2 separate regions of the Homo sapiens genome follow, and region 1 is linked to region 2. The links come from fine-mapping of genetic effects on gene expression. A gene starts in region 2. The other region holds a variant in brackets. All regions are shown on one strand. Distances are from middle to middle.

Evidence for each region.
Region 1: its variant is fine-mapped to the expression of ZFR in monocytes after Pam3CSK4 (Quach 2016, PIP 0.95).

What each region holds. Positions count from the first base shown.
Region 1 is chr5:32,617,121-32,629,302 of GRCh38, reverse strand. No RefSeq gene overlaps it. Among named protein-coding and RNA genes, the nearest start is that of LINC02061, 29 kb to the left of the region's middle. The variant CA/A (reference allele first, on the strand shown) is at 5,258.
Region 2 is chr5:32,440,672-32,452,523 of GRCh38, reverse strand. It overlaps ZFR (zinc finger RNA binding protein), which reads left to right and starts at 7,784. Exons shown (of 20, transcript NM_016107.5): 1 at 7,784-7,902; 2 at 8,196-8,295. The coding sequence starts at 7,866. RefSeq lists silencers at 7,482-8,171, 8,402-8,741 and an enhancer at 8,133-8,690.

The DNA of each region.
Region 1 (12,182 bases), 180 kb before region 2:
AGCACAGTTTGAAGTGCTTGCCTTTGCAGATTCACATATACCATGCAAAATTAAGTAGCAGAATTAAGGTTTTTGAAAACAATTTTTCCCTGGTGGTCTAGCGGCTAGGAAAAAATAAGCATTTAAATATAAAAAGAAACAATTTTGAAGAAAAATTATCAGACATGCAATGGCCTCTTTGGTGAAAAATGACAAGAAAGATAGCTTTTCTTTTCTGCAGCAAGAGCCCATTGTGGAAGAAACGCTAGCTTGGGAGATGTTTTCATTCTAATTCACACTGTCAGACACCTTTGTCTTCATTTGTAAAATGGCCAAAGTATTGCATAAGTCACTCACATGTCCCTCTGAGCCAAATTCTAACTTCTGATTATCCAAAGCTATGGGCCTTGAACTGTAGGTCAAATATGGGCAAGGTATATCATTATTACTATTATTATTATTATTATTGTTGATTGATTGATATCAATTGTTGGGCCCTTAGAATTGTCAGAGGGGACGTTTAGACCAAGGGAGAAATCTAGTTCCCTCTGGCAGCCTTACAATGTAAATTAGACTGAGTTGCATAACAGTTTTAGGTATCTGATATGAGACTTGCCAAATTTCATGGCTTCAGGCACACGGAATGTACATCTCTGTTCCAGGGAGGCTAAATATTTTTCCAAATCAGTAGATAAAACAAACTCCCTGACCTCAACTTACTTCCTGGCGCCTGGAGTCCTGAGTAGCTGATGAAGAGTGTCTGTCTGCTATCAAGTGACAGGACACATTCAGACTGGCTCCTACACTCAAGACCATGTGGTACCTGATCCTGTCTCCATCTTCCGAGCTAAGATTTTGGACACAACCTGAAGATCTAAGTCCAGAGGGCAGTGGGCCAGGGTTAGATACCATGAAATGCCATTGAATCAGCCTTGAAGGGCAACTGTGGCTTCTTAGTGCATGAGGCAATGTGCTGCAGCCAGAGGCCGGTGAAAGCAATGATCACAGACCCAGGGCAAATCACATCACTAACGTCATCTCTGAAATGGAGAGGTGGCTACATCACTGACTTAAGTAAATACTATGCACAGACTTGAGACCTTACACAGCCGACCAAGCAGGGAGCTAATCCATCAAAGGGAACCTGAAGCTTCTGACCTACAAGCTTGTTGAGTGGACACCTTCACTATTAGACAGTGGCATCTACTGACTGTTACACACCGCCACCTTGCAGATCAAATAAGAATTAGCTAAGCCTGAGGATTCAAAGAATTGTTAAACGGGGGATGGGAGGATTCCCATGGATAGTTTAGTAAGAGCTGGAATAAATTAATAGCAGAAGAGAGATCATTGAGGTTGGAATGTGTTTTAGAGTGTTATACACACTTAATACAAATTAATTTCATAACCTCACAAAGTCCTCTGAGTCTTTCCCAGAGAGGTACTGTAGATTCATTAGGCATCGTGTTAGAACTTTTCTGTAATCATCAGGCCATTCTGATGCATTCACCTTGAGGTTTTCCCTTTCCAGGCAATCCCATCTGCCTTTTAGACTCATGTGCTTGCACTGATGTGCACATGCATGCTTTTCTCCCCTTTCTCTCCTCTCCTTGCCTCATCCCCCTGTGAATAAGCCACATTTAATCAAGAAGCATGAGTTTCCATTTCTTGTTTTCATTGAGTCATCTAAATAACTTGCTTTCTGGCTATTTCCTGCAGAAGCCAGGAATCCACACCGCCATATTTTCCCCTTCACGTACAATTTCATATAGCTGTAAACCACCCAGCAGCTCAGGTCCTGCAAGACACACAACCCCAATTCATTCCTAACTGCACAGCTGCCCTTCTCCCTACCAAGGCCACTAAGCTAAACCACCTGCTGTGGGCTCCTTCAAGGAACTGTTCATCCCAGCAGAGGTCCTGACCATAAACCTTTTGGAGCGGGGAGAGCGTCACTTGCCTCTCTTCAATCCCTCAGGACCTCTCTGGTGCACTATGCTCACAAGTGGACCTTGACAAATGCTTACTGGGTGAAAGAATGATGCAGAGGCTTGTTTTAATTCCAAGACATCAGTGAATTGAGAAGATTTTGCTCACAGCTATCATCGTGCTCAAATACACCAAACTGGAACCATGGAAATTAAACACTCAAAGAAAAACTGAGTCTGCCTTCCTGGCTTTTGCTGTCATCATTGTTCTTATACTACATATGAAAGGATTTATCGTATATCTCCAAGATTAATGTCCTCTCCCTATAAAACAATGTTATCTGTTTGATCAGGCTTTTCTTCCTCTGTCTTCCTGGCCTATCCTTTTGTATCCTATCCCCTCCCCACTCATTGCCTTTCCCGCACCTTCCCATCACCTCGGCCTTGCCCGGGGTCTCGTCTATCGTGTTTCTGTAGTTTTCTCTTTCAGAGAGTGGGTCTAAGTTCTTCAAAGGGAATGTGCAAAGCAGATCCTGAGCACTGAGAGTCAGGAACTGGATTGGAAACCAGCATTGTCTCCCCAGACCTCAGACTGAGGACCTGCTGTAAAGAGTGACAGCAGGAGGCTGAGAATTATAGCTTCAGTTGGTTTACAAAAATTAATGAGAACTTGTTTTTTTTTTGGCCAAGTTTCTCTTTCATGAACTAAAACATTTTCTATCGATTTTTATTTGGTAGATAAAAATGCAAGTATGAAAACAGAATTTAAAAAAAAATGTTACAAAGATTGAATATTCATAATATCTAAGTGTAAATATTTTTAGACCTTTCATTATTGCTTGCAACTATGGGTGAGCCTATAGGCGTTTTAGGGTAGATTTTCATGTTGTCTAATGTTGTTTAGTGCTTAGGAAAAATAGGTTATCCAAGCAAGTTCTGATCTGTTTTTCAGTCTCATCCCTTTTGATGTCATTATTGGAGGCACTGGATGTCTGTCATGTGGGAAGAAGGATGCAAGAGGGAATAGGCTGATGTTGAAAGGAAAGATCACCTAGGGCCCAGATAAAAAGGTGACACGTGAACTACGTATTCCACAAACAGGGCCTAGCATACTTAATCTCAAACGCTGGAAAGACACACGTGACTCACCCCTTAGCCACATCGATGGTACAAGGTAGTGATGACTCCTGGGAAGGGGCTGTCATGTTACTAAATGTCCAGGGACATTCTGGCATGTTTGTCATGCTGGAGTTCTGCCTCCATGGCCAACTATGGCCTACTCTGAGAGGGGTGGGTGGTCACAGCTGGTGTAACCAGCTAGGCGGAGAACGGGAACTAGGGAGAGGGAGCTCAGGCATTCTCTCAGGCTAGAACTTGGCAGGTTCAGGTATCTTCAACATCACAGGAACTGAGGAGTGAGGAAGCTCTCACCAGTGAACCATAAACAGGGAAGATTTGTCCAAAGGCTACTGTGCTCCCTGGTGCCATCAGTAAGTCTCTGCCTTTGGTCATTCCATAGCTTTGAGGAAAGCCTCTCCTGAATAACAGAGCCTTGGCTGGGCTGGGCTCTAAGGCATTAGTGAAAGACCCGTGCTTCTCTGTTTAAATCAGCTTTATTCAAAAGGAAATGATAGTCCCCACTCCCATCCCTACTCCACCCAGGGTGGAGGCAGTGGCAGGACTGCACATGAGATCCTCCACAGGACCGCGAGCCTTGGGGGACAAACACCAGGCTATGAGATCCAGCTGCTCCTCCCCGCAGGACACTGTCTTACTAACATTAACTTCGAAGGACCTGGTTATTATTTTTTATAACATTGGGGGTGGGAGATAATTACTTACAGACACTACTGTTTCCTAAATGAAATCTAATAAGTAATATGTAAATAAAAGAAAGCAATTCCCCAGCCCCTGGAGTAATATTGCTGTATGCTGAGTGCTCATTAAAACTTAAAATATCCACGAACTAATGCAAGTTCTCCCAAAGACTGACCACCCTGGGGAAAAAAGGCATCTCAACAAACAGTGATAGTTTGAACAAAATACAGCACATGCTCCAAGGTTCCAAGAGGGAAGGGACCACACGATGGAAAGATGGTAGCATGCTTGTGGTTTAACAGCATTTCCTTTTCCAGAAAACATCAGCATTCTGAACGAGAATTTAATTCTTGTATTTGTAAACACCTCAGTGGTATCTTACAGTATTACACAATAAGCTACATATTCCATTTTTAATCCTATGACTTTTATTTTTGATTTTTTTTGTTTTGTTTTTGTTTTTGTTTTGAGATAGAGTCTTGCTCTGTCACCCAGCCTGGAGTGCAACGGTGCTATCTCTACTAACTGCAACCTCCGCCCCCCAGGTTCAAGCGATTCTCCTGCCTCAGCCTCCTGAGCAGCTGGGACTACAGTGCCACCATGCCTGGCTAATTTTTGTATTATTAGTAGAGACAGGGTTTCACCATGTTGGTCAGGCTGATGTCAAACTCCTGACCTCAGGAGGTTACAGAGACTTGAACTTTAAGACATGGCAAATGTTTACAGTGTTGAATTAATAAAACAGATACTTTCTGTACAATGATCTTTACTTCTGATAAGTTGAAAACTGTTTCTAGCCTTTGTAGGTCAGAACAATGGATTGGATATGTAATAACTTTTATCACCTACCAAAAGGATGGTTATTCATTAAGATAATCAACATCTCTGTAACTAACTAAATCATTTTCCCCTCATCCATTCCTTTTATTGAAATGTTTGTGTTTTTATTTCAAGATGTATTCCTATGCTATGATTTTGGGGTCTTACAATGAAAATTTCGGGAGCAACTAACAACTGTCTGTGCACTGGAGCACAGAAACAATTTTCCTCTTCCTTACCTGTGGAAGAATCATAGCACAACCGTGAAATGATGACACGCTGAAACGTAAGACCACTGGGGAAATCCCTGTACCTAATTCGGGCTCCTTCATACTTGGGGGCCTATCCCTACCACTGCTCTCTATCAGCCTGTGTGTAGATTGAAGATCTCTTGACTTTGACTCCTAAAATAAACAACAAAAAGGATTTTTGGTATGTTTGTTTGTTTGACCCCTACCACAGTCTACTTGTTCTGCCCATTTCTGGAAGAAACTCAAACCCAGGTTCTATCCTCCTACAACCAATATTCCTACAATCCCCTTGTCTTCATGGAAGCTGATTCCACAGATGCTGTTTTAGGTGCAATGGTTTGGTCCATCTGCAGAATTTGAACTTCAGTGGCTATAGGGCTCCAATGTGGTTAGGTTTTTAGTTTTTTGTTCTTTTTTATTAGCCTACATAATGTTAACATTTTAAAAATTCATTATCAATGT[CA/A]AAAAAAAAAAAAGAAAACAAAAAAAGGAAAGATCTGGCATCTCTGGGCATGCATTTCCAAACGGCCGAACAGTAGCTGCCCCCTTAAACCAGGCATGGCCTCTTCAATTTGAGCCAGTCCCTGCCACTCCTGCAGCTCCCTGGCCACCTCATTCCTTTTCTTTCCCTGTCTGCTTCCTGGAGGCTGATGAGCCCAAGACCTCTTATCTGCACCAATGTTACCGGTGGAGGGTGTCTGGGTTCTTGGCGTCTTGAACAAAGAATTGGGCAAGATGCACAAACAAAGCAAGGAAAGAATGAAGCAACAAAAGCAGAGATTTATTGAATGAAAGTACACTCCATAGAGTGGGAGTTGCCCGAGCACAGGGGCTCAAGAGCCCCATTACAGAATTTTCTGGGGTTTAAATACCCTCTAGAGGTTTCCACTGGTTACTTGGTGTACACTCTATGTAAATGAAGAGGATGAAGTAAAGTTACAAGTCATTTACTCAGTGTATGCCCTATGTAAATGGAAAGGATATTTCCTGTCATAGCTGAAGTGTTTCCATTTGATTTAGTTCTAGGAAGTCAGCTTGCATCGCCTTATGTTCCCCGCTTCCAGACCCCATTCTCCTGCCTCACCAAGAGCTTGATTAGTAGATCAAGTGAGCACAGGAATGCCCACCCCACATTTACACAGTTGCTGTCTGGACCTGCAGCGTCCAGTAGGGTAGCCACTAACCATACATGGTCACTGAGGTCGTGAAATGTGGCTATTGTGACCACAAAACAGAATTTTTAATTTAAATGTAAAATGATCACATAAAGTTCTATAGGACGGTTCTGGTCTGGACCATGAGAGATTATAAGATTGAAAGATTTTGTTAACCACATGCAAATGCTAGTCTGTTATTATTTTCCTCGGGATCAGAATAGGCACCTTCATTGTAGATGCTCTTTAGGGAGTCCTTGCATACCATCAGTACTCTGTATCTTACTGAGCAGAGAAGCTGATCGAGCCAAACAACTCAAAACTCCCCAAACTCCTTTCCTCTCTCTTCTACTCCCAATGCCCAGGGCACAGAAAATCACTAGAAGTAATTTATATGTTGAAATTTAAGAGGACCCAAAGTAACTGATCTTCAGAGCCTTCCTTCTCTACTTGCTTGCCACCTTGCTTTCCAATCATTTGAGATCATGGAGGACACTTGTGGAAAGCACAGAGGGTTCCTGGGAGACGTCTAATACATGGGCCCTTTCTCACTTGTTGGGCTCAACTGCGGATACGTACTCTATGGACTGGCCTAGCAAACAGAGCAAATCCCTGAGAGAAAGAGACAAAAGGAATTTCTATGAAGAAGGTATGAGTTGATCTTGAGGCTTTTCCTGAGAGAATCAGAGCCCAATTAGGATGCCAGTGGAAGGCAGGGACCCTCAGGGAGCAATAGCAGTAAAGGGAACAGCCCCAAAGGCACAGTGGAGTGCTTAGGGAGGAGCAGAGACCAAAGGCAGGCTCAAAGGCTTCCCAACGCCGTGTGAGAAGGGGCTGTGGTCTCCAGCAGCTGTGTGGTGCTTGTGTTTGCATTAAAATGCTTGGAACAGAAGCTCTTTCCCTACTGTGCCCTTCTGCTCCCAAAATACAACCAAAACCTCTCCTCTCAACTCCTTCTGGGTGATTTATAAAACAAATTACAACCAGTGAAGACTTGGAGGATGAGTTCCTGAGCACTGGCGAATATGGAAATATGGCTGGTTATCCCACATATTGAATTTGTTTGATTACCCACTTGTCTTACTGTATTGTCATAGGCCCACTGAGAAGGAGAAAAGCAAGAATAATCCCTTACATAGCATCTTCTATATATGCTCAGACATGATAAATCGTTCACTTCACTTATTCCCTTAATGATACTGTTACTAATATCCCTTTTCCACAAATGAGAAAATTGAAGCTCAGAGAAGCTAAGCAACTTGACAATGGCCCCACTGCCAACAAGTGGCAGAGCCAAGGCTCAAACCCAAACTCAAATCCTATGCTTATGTCACGGTCAGGACGTTATAAGACAACACTATACAAGTAAACGAAGCTATCTATCTTCTTGTGAAAAATGGAGTCATTTCTGAAAGCAAACACCAGGAGTACACCACGAAGGCGTCTGGATGAATTCTGAGGCATTCTGAAACACGCTAGTGTCTGGAAAGGCAGGTGGGGTCTCCGCAATGCCCTGGTGTGGAGACTTGGCATCTGTACTAGCCAGTGGGCACTGCTACTGCACCCTAATTCCCTGAGAGCTGTCTCCCCGTTCCTGACTTCAGGGAGTCCCTGCAACCGTGAAGCAAAGCACATGCAGCTTCCCGAATTTCATTTTTAGAGGTTTTCATCTTTCCCTTAAAACATTCCAGAATTCAGATTGATTAAGTTCATCGATGCAGAGAAATGTTCTTTAATACTTGGCTCTCCTCACGGTGCACATCCCCGCACCCTAAGGGGAGCTTGCCCTGTGGACATGCTTGGAAGTGTACCATGGATTACAGCTGATTTTGCTAGGATTTCCATGAAATTTCCTGACTGTAGGACTTGCGAAACTTTGGAAATTGAAGTTCTGTTGCCAGAGGAGTTTGTGGAATTGTGTTCTGTGGAAACAGAATTATGGGATTTTAAGCCTAGAAAAAATCTTTCAAGTCCGCTCCTGCCAAAGGCCAGGCTGAGTGCGAACGCTTGCTGAGAGATGCCATGGCTGTAACATGCTTCTCCTTCCCAGCATGTAGCTTTCACCTGCAAACAGACACGTGTAAAAAGAAAATTCATAAATATTTCCTTTACCCAATTCTCTTCTTCATCTTTTCAGTTTATTATTTATTTTCCTTTTGGAAACAGCAACTACGCTCAGGTTTCTAACTGGATTTCACCTTGTCCATGCCAAATCAAGAAAAAACGTATATGAAAAAGTAACTACAATGGGACTGAGAAGAGGGGGAGCAGGTAGGCTGGTGAGGACTCGCTCCCTCAGTCTGTGCCGTCTGCTACAGGGAGGAGGCTCCCACCTCCTCAGTACCCCCAGGTCTGTTACCCGCCCTGAGCCCAAGAGGAAACAGTGGCCTGAGTCTGCAGCACCTGCCTCTCCCTTTGGATCAAGTGATCACACTGTGCTGGCCTCAATCAGAAGCTGCGAGAGGGATGGGAGCAAGGCAGATGTTGAAAGAGAAGTGGGTTTGGAATAAAATCATTGCGCATGCCCTCTTCTTTCCTTGGACGCCTGTGTGGCTCGAATGCGCCTGAGACCTCCAAAAAGCAAGCACAAGACTTGGCTGCAAATCACTGTGATTACCAAAACCTTACAAACAGTGGCAGGGAATTATTCTGGTCTTGGCTGTGCTGTGGGGAATTAAGGGACATAAGAAGGAGCATTGAAGCTGGGGTGGGGGGGCAGGGGAATATGACTCCCCATAAGGCAAAGGAGACCATGACAACTGTCACTAATAGGAGGACGTAGGGAGAAATGCGCCGGCAATGGAGCAGCCTGCAGGGAGACTTCCTCCTCATGGCCTCCTGGAGAACCTTGGGTGGATTTTTTCCAGGGCACTAGTGGGTTTCCTGACAGGTCCTCATGTGAAAAGAAGAGTTGACCTTTCCTTTTTAGCTCCTAAAGCATAAACTAAGGTGACTCTATGGAGCAACAAACTACAGCTCAATATATAGAGAGTCATTCGGAAAATTACAGACTTCCAAAGATAGAATTGTCTCCTGAAGCTATAGTGACCTCCCATTGTCTCAAATGTTCAAATAGAAAGTCATTCTGGGGGGAAGCGAGGGAGGAACAGGTGGAGTGCAGAGGATTTGGGAGCAGTGGACATACTCTGTGTGATACCATGATGGTGGACACGTGTCATTATACATTTGCCCAAGCCCGCAGTATGTATGGCACCACGAGGAAACCCTCATGAAAACCATGGACTCTGGGTGATGTTGGTGTGTCAATGGGTAGGTTCGTCGATTATAACAAACGCTCCACTCTGGTAGGGGATGTGATAATGGGGGAGGCTGTGTATGTGTTGGGGCAGGAGACATATAAGAAATCTTTATCTTCCTCTCAATTTTGCTGTGAACTTAAAACTCTAAAAAAAAAAATAAGTCTTAAAACAAAAAGTCAGTCTGAAAAGCAGGTAAGAATAAGGAATTCCTTGGTCAGTTGTGAGGTTTGATTGGTTGACCTGTGAGTTTCTTACATAAATTAGAGAATACTGGAGCTAGAGAAGTACATCTTAGAAGGTAATCCTTCCAGACATGTTGTTCTAAAACTTTGATCTGCTTTCTTTCTAAACAACTAGACTTACTTCTCTTGAGCTTGCTCAAAGACGTGTCCCCTCCCTACCCTGCTCACCAAACTCTATGATGAATTGGTCATCCCTGAAGGAAAACCTTAAAGAATAAGACGAATGACTTCATATGGGACTGGCCTTTGCATTCATGTCCATAGCAAAGAGGAATTCAAACACCAGGAACTTGTCAATTGATAGCAAAACTTAGACTCAGTTTCATAAAAATGTCTAAAAGCTATGTTATATGAGGTCTTAGGCAATAGATGTATCCTCTGAAAATCTCAAAGTGAGGATGTAGAAAAATTGGAACTCACATACACTGCTGACATGGATGTAAAATGGTACAGCAACTTAGAAAACAGTTTGGCAGTTCCACAAAATATTAAGCATGGAGTTAGCATGACCAACAATGACCCAACAATTCCACTCCTAAAGTCTCTGAACCACTTATCATTTTCCAAAATTCTTCCATGTATTTGTTTAGTAGCTTGTTGTCTTTGTCATCCACCAAAACTTATCTGTCCAGTAGAAAGGCCACTGGCCACACTCCAAGTGTTCAGCAGCCACATGTGGCAGTGGATACAGATTGGACAGCACAGTACAATCATCACTGTCAGAACGTCCTGTTGGATAGCACTGCACTGGAATGCAAGCTAGGTTAAAGCAGGCTCCTTATTTGTCTTGGTCACTGCTATTTCTCCGGCATCCAGAACAGTGACTGACACATAGTAGGCTCAATAAAGGGTAAGTAATGAGTGAATGAACTGAAGTTGAATGAATGAACAGCACTGGGTGGACAACAACAACACTGGAAAAGGAGGTGAAGGAATGCTGGAACAATACGAACAGGGGTGAAAATGGAAGCAAGAAAATAAAGTATTTGTTTAGGTTCTTCTTGTCATCGCTTTACTCCAGTATCTTATAATTTAATCATGATAGTCTCAAGAGAGTATTTTAATTATTGGATCTTAGTATCTTTCCTAGTATTCTCCTATTGGAGAATGTGTTGAGTAACATAATTTGACAAATGACATACCACTGTGAAAATGTATAGAATGTTGTGAATTTGTTAGTTTGCCATTAATTTCATTTCCAATTCCAACAGGGAGTACTACTGACATGGTAGAAATTTAGGTTGATAAAGAGCCTTTGACTCCTAGAGAATGTTTTAATAGTCATTCACTTTTATCAAACTTCAGAGGTCATTCTTATTTTATAGCTTTTTTCTGTAAATAATACTGAGTTCTAAAAATAGAAATTAAAAGATAAAAATCATTCAATAAACAGGTGTCATTTCATTGTTTTCCTAGTTTGTTCTTGTTTTTTGTTTTCATTTGGTTTGGTCTGTTTATATTGGGTGTTGAGACTGAAAATTTTTACTCAAGGTCTGATTGTAACTTTGCTACCATCCTCTGGCAAAATAATGACCATCTTAGGATCTTTGACTAGAATGAGTTTCCACAATTTTGTTTATTTCATGTTATAAACTGCTTTCACTTGCATCCTACTGCAGCTAAAAGCAAAAGCTATTAAAAGGCAACGATAGCAGAGGAAAACAAGATCACAGAATCTCTGTTCTCTAATACCTGAAGAAATGCAAAATTTTAAATGTTTTAATACCTGATATTCAACAGTGGCAACTAAAACAAAATGGCAGCCGGGGGGAAAAAAAAAGCAGAAAATTCAGAAGGAAAATTTTTGTTTGTAGAGATGGGGTTTCACCATGTTGCCCAGGCTGGTCTCAAACTCCTAGGCTCAAGCGATCCTTCCCACCTTGGCCTCCCAAAGTGCTGGGATTACAGGCATGAGTCCTGTGCCTGGCCAGAAGGAAAAATTCTAAGGAAAACCCTCCGTGATCCCCCCATCATAGCCTTGCCAGAGGCAGAAGGCAGAAGTGTTGCCCGGTCTCCTCCAGAGAACTGGGTTGAGTTGAGGGAACAGGTGAAGCCCATCAGGGTGGCTGGCACCCAGCAATGTTTGGGTGGAGTAAGTCCCAGCAGGACATGTCAATGGCTCCAAAGAAAATAATAAAAGCTCAGGACCCCCACCAACGGCTGCACTTGATCCCCAAAGAGCCGATCCTGCCTACTACACCCTCCTCTCCACAAAGAACATGGACTGCGGGTGTATGGAAAATGAAGGTAAAGCAATAACCACCTGTCTGACCATCATTCAGAGAGTTAAGACTAATGGGTCCTAAATGAGATGGGGGAAATGTCCAGGAGAATTTACCCACCCTATATAAGAGGAACTAGGCTTGGACAGAATTGTCCACATTAAACATAATATACAGAGAAATGCCACAATGGAATACTAAAGCAATAAATGTGAGCAAGCTATAACCACACACAACAGCATGGACAGACCTCACACACAACAGCATGGACGGACCTCACACACAACAGCACGGACGGACCTCACACACAACAGCACGGATGGACCTCACACACAAAATGCTGAATGAAAGAAGTCCAGTGCAAAAGGATACATCCTAAAAATTCTATTTAGATATTATGCTGTGAGAAGTCAGAATCCTGACTCCTCTTGTAGGGGGTAGATGTGAGCAGGGCATGTCTGTGTCTAGTGGACAGCACATTACATCTCTCCCAACTCCTGATAATTTTA
Region 2 (11,852 bases):
TGCTGTGATTACAGTGAGTCACCATGCCCGGCCCCTGTTGCCAATTTGATTTTAGCACAGTGAGGCTTCTAAACTACAGAATTGTAAGATAATAAACGTGTAGTTTTAAGCCAGGAATTCTGTGGTGATCTTTTGCAGCAGCGATAAGAAACTGATATACCATGTAAATGCCCATCAGAGAGTGTTCCCAGTGGAGGGGGCACTTCATCAATCAGGTGGGCCGATGACTTGTTTTATAGATGGCAGTCAGCCTTTATTTTTTTTCTCAATTAGCAATAATCGCACTTCAGATAAACCCCATTGTCTATGATGTTGCTGCTGCATAAAGCTGGCCTTTTTTATTTTTTATTTTTATTTTTATTTTTTTATTTTATTTTTTTTTTTTTTTTGAGACGGAGTCTCGCTCTGTCGCCCAGGCTGGAGTGCAGTGGCGCAATCTCTGCTCACTGCAACCTCTGCCTCCTGGGTTCAAGCAATTCTCGTGCCTCAGCCTCCCAAGTAGCTGGGATTACAGGCATGTGCCTCCATGCCTGGCAAATTTTTAGTATTTTTGGTAGAGATGGGGTTTCACCATATTGGTCAGGTTGGTCTCCAACTCCTGGCCTCAAGTGATCTGCCCACCTTGGCCTCGCAAAGTGCTAGGAATACAGGCATGAGCCACCATGCCTGGCCGCAGTCAGCCTTTTAAAAACAATTTTATTTTAAATAGAGACAGGGTCTCACTCTGTTGCCCAGGCTGGTCTTGAACCCCTGGGCTCAAGCGATCCACCCTCCTCGGCCTCCCAAAGCATTGGGATTACAGCTGACACGCCTAGCAACAGTCAGCCTTTTTCCCCAGCCACCTTAGTGCTAGCCTGATGGGCTCATGTACAAAATATGTATTTAGTTTTTTAATCCTCATGTCAAATTATGAGGTTAGTACTATTATTATTTTTTCTGTTTTGTAGATGAGACCAGGGCATGAGAAGGTTAAGTAAATTCGCCAAAGTCATATTGTCAGTAAGTAGTAAAACCAGGATTTGAACATAGGTCATCTGACTCTGGTACTATACTATCCAATATAGTAGCCGCTAGCCATGTACTAGCGGTTTTTAAACTAGGGTTTTTAAAATTAAATTAAATTAAAATGTAGTTGCTGTCATACTAGCCCCATTTCAAGTGTTCAATAGCCACATGTGGCCAGTGGTTACCATATTGCACAGTGCAGAGAGAGAACATTTCTATCTTTGAAGAAAGTTCTATTGGACAGTGTTGATCTAGAGTGTGGGCTTTAAACCAATATGTCCTTCAGCATCTCCCATTGATAATCATATCAAGCTCTAAATCAGGTCACAGTGTGGCTGAGACTCTTCTCCAAGCTGCTAAACAGCGACTCCTATGGCTGCCTTGAGTCCTGTAGGTTCTTCAGGTTCCTATGAATATGTTACTGACACAAAGAAACCCTTATAACATTGGTGTTGGGGGTTCAAGCTTGGTAGCAAATAGCATTTTCTAGAATGTCAAGGGAGCTGCAAGGACTAAAATAGGTTGGCATCTGCATTTGTGGCTGGTACCATGTCAGATGGTACTTGGGGGAGGGGGAAGAAAGATATTAAAGACCTATATCATAAAACCATTACCCTCAAAAAATGGACACAAGACTAATTTCATTCATCCCCAAAATATTTATTAAGTGCATACTGTGTTCTTGGAATGGTTCTCTCTTTTTAATATTTTATTTTTTGAGACAGCATCTCACGCTGTCACTCAGGCTGGAGTGTAGTGGCATGATCTCGGCTCACTCCAACCTCCACCTCCCAGACTCAAGGGATCCTCTTACCTCAGCCTCCTGTAGCTGGGACTACAGGTGCATGCCACCATGACCAGCTAGTTTTTGTATTTTCTGTAGAGACAGGGTTTCACTATGTTGCCCAGGCTGGTCTCGAACTCCTGAGCTCAAGTGATCTGCCCGTCTCGGCTTCCCAAAGTGCTGGGATTACAGGCATGAGCCACCATGCTCGGCCGGAATGGCTCTAGGCATTGGAAATTCATTGGCAGATAAAACAGACATGGTTCCTGACCCTGTGGAGTTCATGTTCTTTCCTGGGGGAAGAGAGATATTGAGTAAGAAATGACCAGTCTGATGAGTGTTACAAAATGGGAACTATAGGATGCCCTGGAATGAAATAATTAAAGAGCCAATAATGTAAGTGCTCTAGGAGTTCATAAATGAAAAATAGCCATGTGCACTAAAACTGGAAACACAAAGGTGACTCTAGTGACCCACCAGTAATAGGACGTGTTCTTACTTTAGGCAAGTGTGAATCTTTACGAGATTTTTAGCAGGGTAATGACATGTTCAGATGTGTTTCAGGGAAGCAGTATGTCGCAGAGGTCAGGCATTCTGGAAACAGGTAGGTATAGTTTAAATCCTGCGTTTGCCACTTATCACCCTTATGAACTCACTTTTACTATCTCTAAATGGGATAATCATGATAGTACCTACCTTGTAGGTTTTTGTAAAGAATAAATGAGACAATGCATTATAATGTACACTGTTATTACTACTACTTTTTTTGTTGTTGTTGTTACAGAGTCTCACTCTGTTGCCCAGGCTGGAGTGCAGTGGCGCGATCTTGGCTCACTGCAACCTCTGCCTCCTGGGTTGGAGCAATTCTCCTGCCTCAACCTCCCGAGTAGCTGGGATTACAGGTGTGCGCCACCATGCCAGGCTAATTTTAGTATTTTTAGTAGAGATGAGGTTTCACCATGTTGGCCAGGCTGGTCTTGAACTCCTGACCTCAGGTGATCCACCCTCCTCAGCCTCCCAGAGCGCGGGGATTACAGGCATGAGCCACCACGCCCAGCCCTATTTATTTATTTTTTTAATCTTAGATCCTTGATCATTGTGTAGAGGACAGATTTGAGAGGATTAGATTACTGGGAAGAGAGACCAATTAGTGGGCTGTTGAAGTCGGCTTGGGCAAGAGATGAACTAGAGTAGTGGTTGTAGAGAGGAAAAGAATTTCAGCTATTCAGAGAGTTTGGGGGAAAAAAGGTATACCAGCAATTCCACTCCTAGGGATATACTCAGGAGAATTGAAAACATCTGTCCACACAAAAACTTGCATATCAGTGTTCATAGTGATGTTATTCATAATAGCCCAATAATGGAAGCATCCCAAACATCCATCAACTTATGAATGAATAAATAAAATGTGGTATATCCAAACAATGGACGATGAAATTTGAAAACATTATGCTAAGTGAAAGAAGCCAGACACAAAAGGCCACATTATTGTATGATTCCATTTATATGTCCAGGATAGACAAATCCATAGAGACACAAAGTAATTTTGTGGTTGTTAGGCATTGGAAGGAGGTAGAAATGGGGAGTGACTGCTAATGGGTACAGGATTTATTATGAGATGATGAAAATGTGCTTACAGTGAGCCAGGCACTGATCTAAGAGCTTTACATCTAGGAAGTCTTTAACCCCTACCAACAATCCCCTGATGAAGATACTACTTTTACCTCTCTATTTACAGAGGAGGAAGAAAAATGAAGCAGAGAGATTGTGGCTGAGGTCACAGAGCAGAAAGTGACAGAGCTGGGATTTGAAGCCAGGTGTGTCCAGCTTTAGAGTCCTTGCTCTTATTCACCTCACTATACTCCTCTTGGTATAGAGTAGCTAGTATGATGTCCTTTCTGGCTAATTTATCCGTATTTTATCAAGGTCTTTCAGGATACCACACCTTGACTCAAAGGTGTGACGGAAGACAACTATTATAGATTTATTTTTGGTGAGTTTAGGGGCTGGCTTTGTCAGGCTAGCTCTACCTTGTGGCTAATTGACTGCCAATGACATTTCCTCTTTTACCTTCAGATCCTAATTGAGGTTCATAATTATGACCCTGAGGCACTACAGGTTCTTGAACTACCTTCTGAATCATGAAAGAAAGATTAAACTGTGCACAGCGTGGTTCATTCATTCCATAAGTACTTATTGGGTGCCTACCAACAGGCACCCAATACTGGCAACCTGCCCTCGTGAAGCTTATAGTTTGATGCGAGAGAGAAATATATATTAATCATATAATCACACAATAAGTATAAGATTGCAACTGTGACAAGGGCAACTAAGAAGAGATGTCTGGTGCTCTGAGAGCATAGCAAGGGTTTGACCCATCAAGGTCACGAGGGGTTGAATGAGTTGCGATCCCCAAGCATGAGGGTAAACCAGGTAAAGGGAAGAAGGGAGAACATTCTAGGCAGGGAGAACATGCAAAGCCCCCTGGTGGGAGGGAGCATGGTGAACAGGAGGCCAAGATAGCTGGGATAGAGTGAATAAGGAGGAAGATGCTGAAAAGGCAGGTGGGCCAGGCCACAGAGTCTCGTGGGCCACATGGAAGAATTTGCTTTATCCTGAGAGATGAAAGCACAGAGGATTTGATCAGATTTGCATACCAAACCAGTTCTGGACATGAAGGATGACAATCCCTATTATAATTGGTTGCTTCTGGTCAAGTATTTCATCTTTAATTGTTGACCCAGAAGACTACGTACAGCCATGTTGCCTAGACCGGGTACTCTAGAACATAAACTCTTCCAGGGCAGAGCCACCTACTTTTGACTTGTAGGTGTGATTTGCACAATGCATTCACTTATTAGAAGGTTGATTTTAAAAGACTGACAATCGGCCTGGCACAGTGGCACACGCCTGTAATCCCAGCACTTTGGGAGGCCAAGTGGGTGGATCACTTGAGGTCAGGACTTTGAGAACAGCCTGGCCAACATGGTGAAACCCTTCTCTACTAAACATACAAAAATTAGCTGGGTGTGGTGGCGCATGCCTGTAGTCCCAGCTACTTGGGAGACTGAGGCAGGAGAATTGCTTGATCTTGAGAGGCGGAGTTTGTAGTGAGCTGAGATCGCGCCATTGCACTCCAGCGTGGGTGACAAAGCAAGACTTTGTCTCAAATAAATAAATAAAAATAAAGAACTGACAATCATCTAGCCTAGTCTTTTTACATGAAAAAGCTAGGCGTTAGGCCAGGCATGGTGGCTCACTCTCACCAGTAATCCCAGCACTTTGGGAGGCCGAAATGAGCAGATCGCCTGAGCTCAGGAATTGGAGACCAGCCTGGGCAATGTGGCAAAACTCCATCTCTACAAAAAATACAAAAATTAGCTGGGCATGGTGGCATGTGCCTGTAGTCCCAGCTACTCAGGAGGCTGAGGTGGGAGGATTGCTTGAGCCCAGGAGGTTGGGGCTGCATTGAGCTGAGATCACAACACTGCACTTAGCCTGGGCGACAGAGTGAAACCCTATCTCAAAACAAAAAAAACTAGATGTCTTACATAAATGCTGCCTCATTTAAACCCCACCAGAGTCCCATCAGGAAGATGTTATTGTTATTCTTGCCGTATGGGTTCAGATAGGTTAAATAACATGTTCAGGTTACTCCACTACTAGATGCCCAGGAAAAATATTCAAGACCCTCCAAAACTCCTTCCTTAAAGGAGCCCAAGTCAAGGGCAAGTAGGTGCGATACTGAAAGGTTGTTCCTACAGGCTGCATCTTTGAGAGTGCTGTTGTAAATAATTTTCACTACTGCCACACCTACTTTGACCCCTAAGAACCAGGGGAGAGGCCCCGTCTTCCTCTTTCTAGTTATGTGCTTGCTCATTGGGGTGTGCCAGTAGCACGCCGGCCTCCAAAGGCCTGCCAAGCAAACAAGCATAAAACTGGCCTACACAGACTCTTTTTAGGCAAGTAATCAACACCTGTCTTTTCTCCTCCAGTTTTATTCAAATAGCCTAGTAACTAATAGAGCCGGTTCATCAAAGCAGTTACAGTCAGTGTCTTGAAGCTTGACTGCTCAATGAAGTTCAAGGCAAAATACCTTTAAAATACAGTTCTAATGTCCTATGTGTAGGAGGTATTTCTTCCTAGCAACATCCTTGGGGCACAAATAACTTTTGCCTGGGAAAACATCAGTATTCTCAAAAATAATGACACTTAACTTTTCTCCAAGGTTCTACATTTTCTCTTTCTGAAATGAGTAACAGGACAAATCAGACAGGTTCTGAGAGCCTGTACTTTTGTAGGAGGCGTGGGGAGCAAGGTTGGCACAAAAAAGAATTGAGGCATTGTTTCTGCTCTGGCACAAGAAAGTAGGACAAAGCCCTGAATTTCATGGGTGGGTTCTGATTCACCCTTTGCATTTCTTTTTTTTCCTTTCCTTTTTTTTTTTTTTTTTAAGACGGAGTCTCGCTCTGTCGCTCAGGCTGGAGTCCAGGGGCGCGATCTCGGCTCACTGCAACCTCTGCTTCCAGGGTTCAAGCGATTCTCCTGCCTCAGCCTTCTGAGTGGCTGGGACTACAGGCGCCCGCCACCACGCCCGGCTTTTTTTTTTTTTCTTTTTTTTTGAGACGGGGTTTCACCATGTTGGCCACTGACCTCACCTCGTGATCCACCCGCCTCGGCCGCCCAAAGTGTTGGGATTACAGGCGTGAGCCACCGCGCCCGGCCAGCATTTCCTTTTAATGTTCATATCCAACAATGAGGAGAGATGAGGAGCAGGGAGTCTGGGGGATGGGCATGGAGAAGGTAAGGAAGAGGTGAAATGCAGGCAGTACATATGTACTTGATGGAAGACACGAAACATAAGGCCAGAGAAACTAGACGATCAGAAGAGGGACTGGAAGAGGAAAGAGAATGGTTGAAAACGAACTGAGAAACTAAAGGGAAGAAAGCGAGGAAACAGAGGGAAAGAGGAAATGCTTACATGGGGGCAAGTACTGTTCTGTCCTTACCACTAAAGATCTGGCACGTGATCTGGTCTCCCTCTCACTTGACTCCAGCCAGACTGATCTTCTTGCTCTTGAACATTCATTCCTTCATCTGGACCCTTCCACTTGCTGCTCTTCCTGCAGGCATCTCCCAGGCCTGTCCTTCCTTCCTTCAAGTGGTCTCCCTAACCACACTCTACATGAAATAGCACCTCCCTTACCCTTATTTTCCTTACTCTGCTTTATTTATGCTTGAAGCTCCAGTCACCATCAGACAGAATTTCTGTGTTTTGGCTACCGGCTGTTGGCTGACATATACCCGCTCCTAGAACGTAAACTCCACGGGAACAGGGACTTTGTTTTGTTCTCTGCCGTATCTCCAGCACCTACAACACTGCCTGACACCCTGCTGGGTGACCGATATACGCCGGATGGCTCAGGGAGTGGGTGCAGGTCGAGGAAAGGGTATAGCAAGAGGTATGTCCGGGAGGGATGTTTAGGGTGTGCTTTTAGTCCAACAGAAAAGCACTCTCCATCCTTTTTCTATTTCTCTCCTCTCCTTCTCCCTCCCTCCGCACTTCAGAGGTTGGGGAAAAGCTGCGGGAAAGCAGGAAATAAGGAAAAATCCTAAATTGCCCAGCTCGAATTCCAATGAAAAATTAATGAGCGAGGAAGACAGGGAGGCAGGGAATAAGTGCACATGCAAAAGTTAAGGAAGCCAGTGGAAAGCAAAGAAAAAGGCGAACAGACGTCACTCTCTCTGGTCACGCTCCCCGACTCCCCAGAGGACAGGCGAGGCGCTTCTGGCACACGCCCCCGTCGCCCCGCGGCCGCGCGGCGTCACCACCACTTCGGAGAAGGCCAGGCCCCTCTTCCCCCGCGGGCTTCCCCGCGCCCGCACCGCCGAGGCCCCGGCACGCGCCCGGGGGAGCCGCGAAGACGGCGGGGACTACAGCTCCCAGGATGCCGAGCACAGGCGCGCCTGCGCAGTGCGGTCGGAGGCGGCGGTCTGTTCTCCGCTGAGGAGGAGCGGGGCAGAGGAGGGAGGCAGCGGGTGAGAGTTCAGAGTTCAGCAGCAGCAGCCCGAGCCCATGATTCCCATATGCCCTGTAGTTTCTTTCACCTATGGTGAGTCTAATGTGGCCCGCGAGGCCTCTGCCCGGCCCCCTCCCTGGCCCCGGGCAGCGGGGAGCCGCGGGGGTTGGGGCAGGCTCCGGGGAGGAGGCGGCGGCCGCCACCCGGGCGTGCGAGTGAGTGAGGGAGTGCGAGGCGGGAGGGGGAGGCGGCGCGGCCGCGGCCTGGGCCCCGCCAGGGCTGCTCTCACGGCGCCTCTCTCTTTCTCTCCCTGCCCTCCCTCGGCGTCTCGGCTCCTCTGTGTCTCTTGTCCCGCCATGGGACCCGACTCTTCGTGCCCGCCGCAGTGCCCAGCCGGCTGGGGGAAGATGCCAAAATGGCGACCGGCAACTACTTTGGATTCACCCACAGCGGGGCGGCGGCGGCGGCGGCTGCGGCCCAATATAGGTAACGGCATCCTGCCTTCTCTCTGTTCGCCCCTTGCTCTCCCCTCGGTCCGGATCCTGTCGATGCGACGCCCCCGCGCCCGTCCCCAGCCATCCCAGAGCCCCGGCCCGCTGCAGGCCTGGCCCGGCCCAGCCCGGCGGCCTCTCCCGCCCCGCCCCGCCCCGCCCCGCCTTGCCCGGCCCGGCCCGGCCCGCGGCGGGGAGCGGCCCCCAGTAGGGGGGAGGTAGAGACGGCGGAGGTGTAGGGACGTGGAGGCCTCAGGGCCCTTCAGCGGCCCCTTAACTAAAATGGCCTCCTGCGGCCGCCGAGCGGAGCCGCCACCGCCGCCCGGCAGGCCCCCCAGTCCCCGCCTCCGCGCGTCCAGCCCCCACCTCCCATCTTCTTCCCACTTGGGGGATGGAGAGGGTGGCTGAAGGGACCTCACGGGGAGTGCCGTGTCGCAGGTCCACTGGCTTCTCGTGCGACGCCTCTCTGCGTCGTCGCCTGGTGCTTCAACCCCCGGAGCCCAGATAACGTGTCGTTGTCTCGGGTACCTTTTCCTCCGCCGTGGGGCTTCTTCCCCAGACGCTCCATCGCTAGCGAGTCCTGCTGACAAACTGCGGGTGTCACTGTGTTCATCGGGTTCCTTTAGTTTTTCCTGCAAGGAGAGAGATTCACATACCAACCACCTGTAAATTGTGTAGTTCTTAGACTGGAAAAGATGTGCGAAGTTTCTAGTGCTGATAAATGAGTGCCCAGCCTTGTTTGAGCTATGGAGTTTAGGCCCCAGGTGGGCCTGTCATTCTCCTTGCGGGGGTCTTTCCCCTGCGGGGAATGGTGGGGAGGGAAGAAGATGCAAGTGAGATTGTACTGAGTCATTGTAATGCACCGGATGAAATCCCTGCTTTAAGGGAAGCTCTCATTTCTGAAGTCTGTAGTTCATTATACATCTTACCAAAGACAAACACAACAGTGGATTGTTAAATTGTTACTTTTGAGTCAATCTGAGACTTTTGATTCAGGCCATAAGCGCACACGGCTCCTGCGTGATATGCTTTTTATGTATGTTAGATGTTGGTTAAACCCAGGCAGTTTTTTTCATTTGATTTACTTCAGGAGGCACGGTGTTTAATGGAAAGGGCATCATTGGGAGCCAGAAGACCCGAGTTCAGTCTCTTTTGCTCTTGATTTTTTTTTTTTGAATAAATAATTTTTCTTAGAGAGAAAGGACCTATGTTGCCCAGGCTGATCTCGAACTCCTGGGCAGAGTCCTGCCTCGGCCTCCCAGAGTGCTAGGATTACCGGCATGAGCCACCACACCTGGCCTCTTTTGCTCTTGATTTTATGACGTTGGGAACATCATATAGTTGGGTTTTCATGTTCATCATCTGTAAAATGAGATGCTGGGCAAACTATCTTTTTGGGCTGAAACTTGTGGTTTTGAGAAACCAAGTTACTGTTTTCCATGGCATCCTAAGATGCCATTTGTTGTAAAAGGTACCATTATTGTATGTAGCACTAAAAAAAAATGCTGCCAGTTAAGACACTGCTTAAGACTCCATTAAGAGATGTCAAAATGTATAAATGTGCATCATATTGGTGAAACTAGATTTTACTAATTGTTGAATGCCATGTGGCATTTTACAAGTGTTTTTTCATGAGGCCTGCATTCCAGAAAAAGCACTGAGATGACAAATTATTACAGCAAAATCTTGGGGGCATTTCAAGTATTAGCAAATCGTTTGCTTATAATTTTTGATAATTAGACAAAAAAAGTTTCAGCTACTTTGATAAAACTTTTTAGGACTTTTAAAAAATTCAACAGCTTTTTGGGGTACAAGTGGTTTTTGGTTACGTGGACTAATTATATAGTGAATTCTGAGATTTTAGTAGGGCTAATAATTTTCAAGGAGAGGAAAAAACCATCTTTTTCTCAGAAGAGATAGCTAATCAGCATCTGTGCCATAAATCTGCTGGCAATTACTAGTATTCCGTCTAGAAAAGATTGTGTTTAACCATTAAAATTTTACTTGTTTTACTCAGGTTTTTTCTGTTTTCCTCATATGGGCTGAGTGATAAGATTTGTTGAATTACTAACTTTATTTACTGTAAAGTGGTGGGTTCTTTGTGGCACTTCTGAAATGTTTTTCCTAAATGCAGACCTACAGATAGAAATGAAGAAAGGAAATGCTGATTTAAAGATAATTAATAATTTTTTGATAAAATATTTATGTGATTGTTTTATCCCAGTATAGGGAACTGTGACAGAATTTCTGTTTCTAATAATTTTTTTTTTGGCCTTGAAACTGAAAAGTTTAAACTGTAACAACAATCCAGGTTACTAAATTGATTAAGTGTACATCTGATGAGAAAAGACTAGTCTTTTGACATTACTTATATTGCTAAAACTTAGGCACTCTTGTACATAAGGCCTTGTATATAAACATAGTACATGAAAAGTGTTTGCATTTAATGGCAAGAAATCAGGCCCAATAATACTGGGAATTTTGGCAAGGAAGATGAATGAATAACATTAATAACAAAAGCACATGCAAAAAGTGTGGTGGTGATGCTAATTTTTCTTCCTGGCTGGAAATAATTATAATGGAACTTTTAGAGATGGAAGACCAAGGTCTACTTTACTAATATTTTTTCAAATTTGAAGATCTCAAACTCAGGAAAATCTTAAGTACAGTTCACGCCTGAAAACATATGCAGTTTTTTTTTTTTTCCAATCAAATTTGGATAGAAAATAGAGTATTCATGGAGGGCCAACTTTTTGTATTCGCAGGTTCCACAGGGCCTACTGTGGGACTTTATGTATGGATTTTTGTATACGTAGCGGTCCTGGAACCAATCCCCTGCTTATATGGAGGGATGACTGTATTTATGTGTGAATGATGTGATTGAATTGCTTCACCTATCATTGAATACAGATAAAGTAAACATCCTACACCTAAATGTAATTCCAGAGGCCAGGCGTGGTGGCTCACGCCTGTAATCCCAGCACATTGGGAGGCTAAGGCGGGTGTATCACCTGAGGTCAGGGGTATGAGATCAGCCTGACCAACATGGCGAAACCCGGTCTCTACTACTAAAAATACAAAAGTTAGCTGGGCATGGTGGCGGGCACCTGTAATCCCAGCTACTCTGGAGGCTGAGGCAGGAGAATCGCTTGAACCGGGGAGGTGGAGGTTGCAGTGAGCCAAGATCGCGCGATTACACTCTGGCTGGGCAACAGAGACAGACTCCGTCTCAAAATAAAATACAATAAAAGTAATTCCAGCTCTTAGTTTTCTTGATTACAGTTCTGTAAGATATTTGATTAAATTTATTTTAGATTTAGACTTTTTAGCTTGTTAATATTTGAGATTCATAATGGCACACTAAAGATCAGATTCTTTAAGATGTAAAGACCTGTAATAATGAATTTGTCAAGTATGGCTACTAGTAACTTGTAGATTAGTTACCACATTTTTCATTTGTGTTCATGCATATTAGACAATTTTGTGGTAAGCGTTTCTCAGTCTTGTGTTCTAAGTCCCATAAACTATGGAATTTTTTTTTTCCTGTTTTGT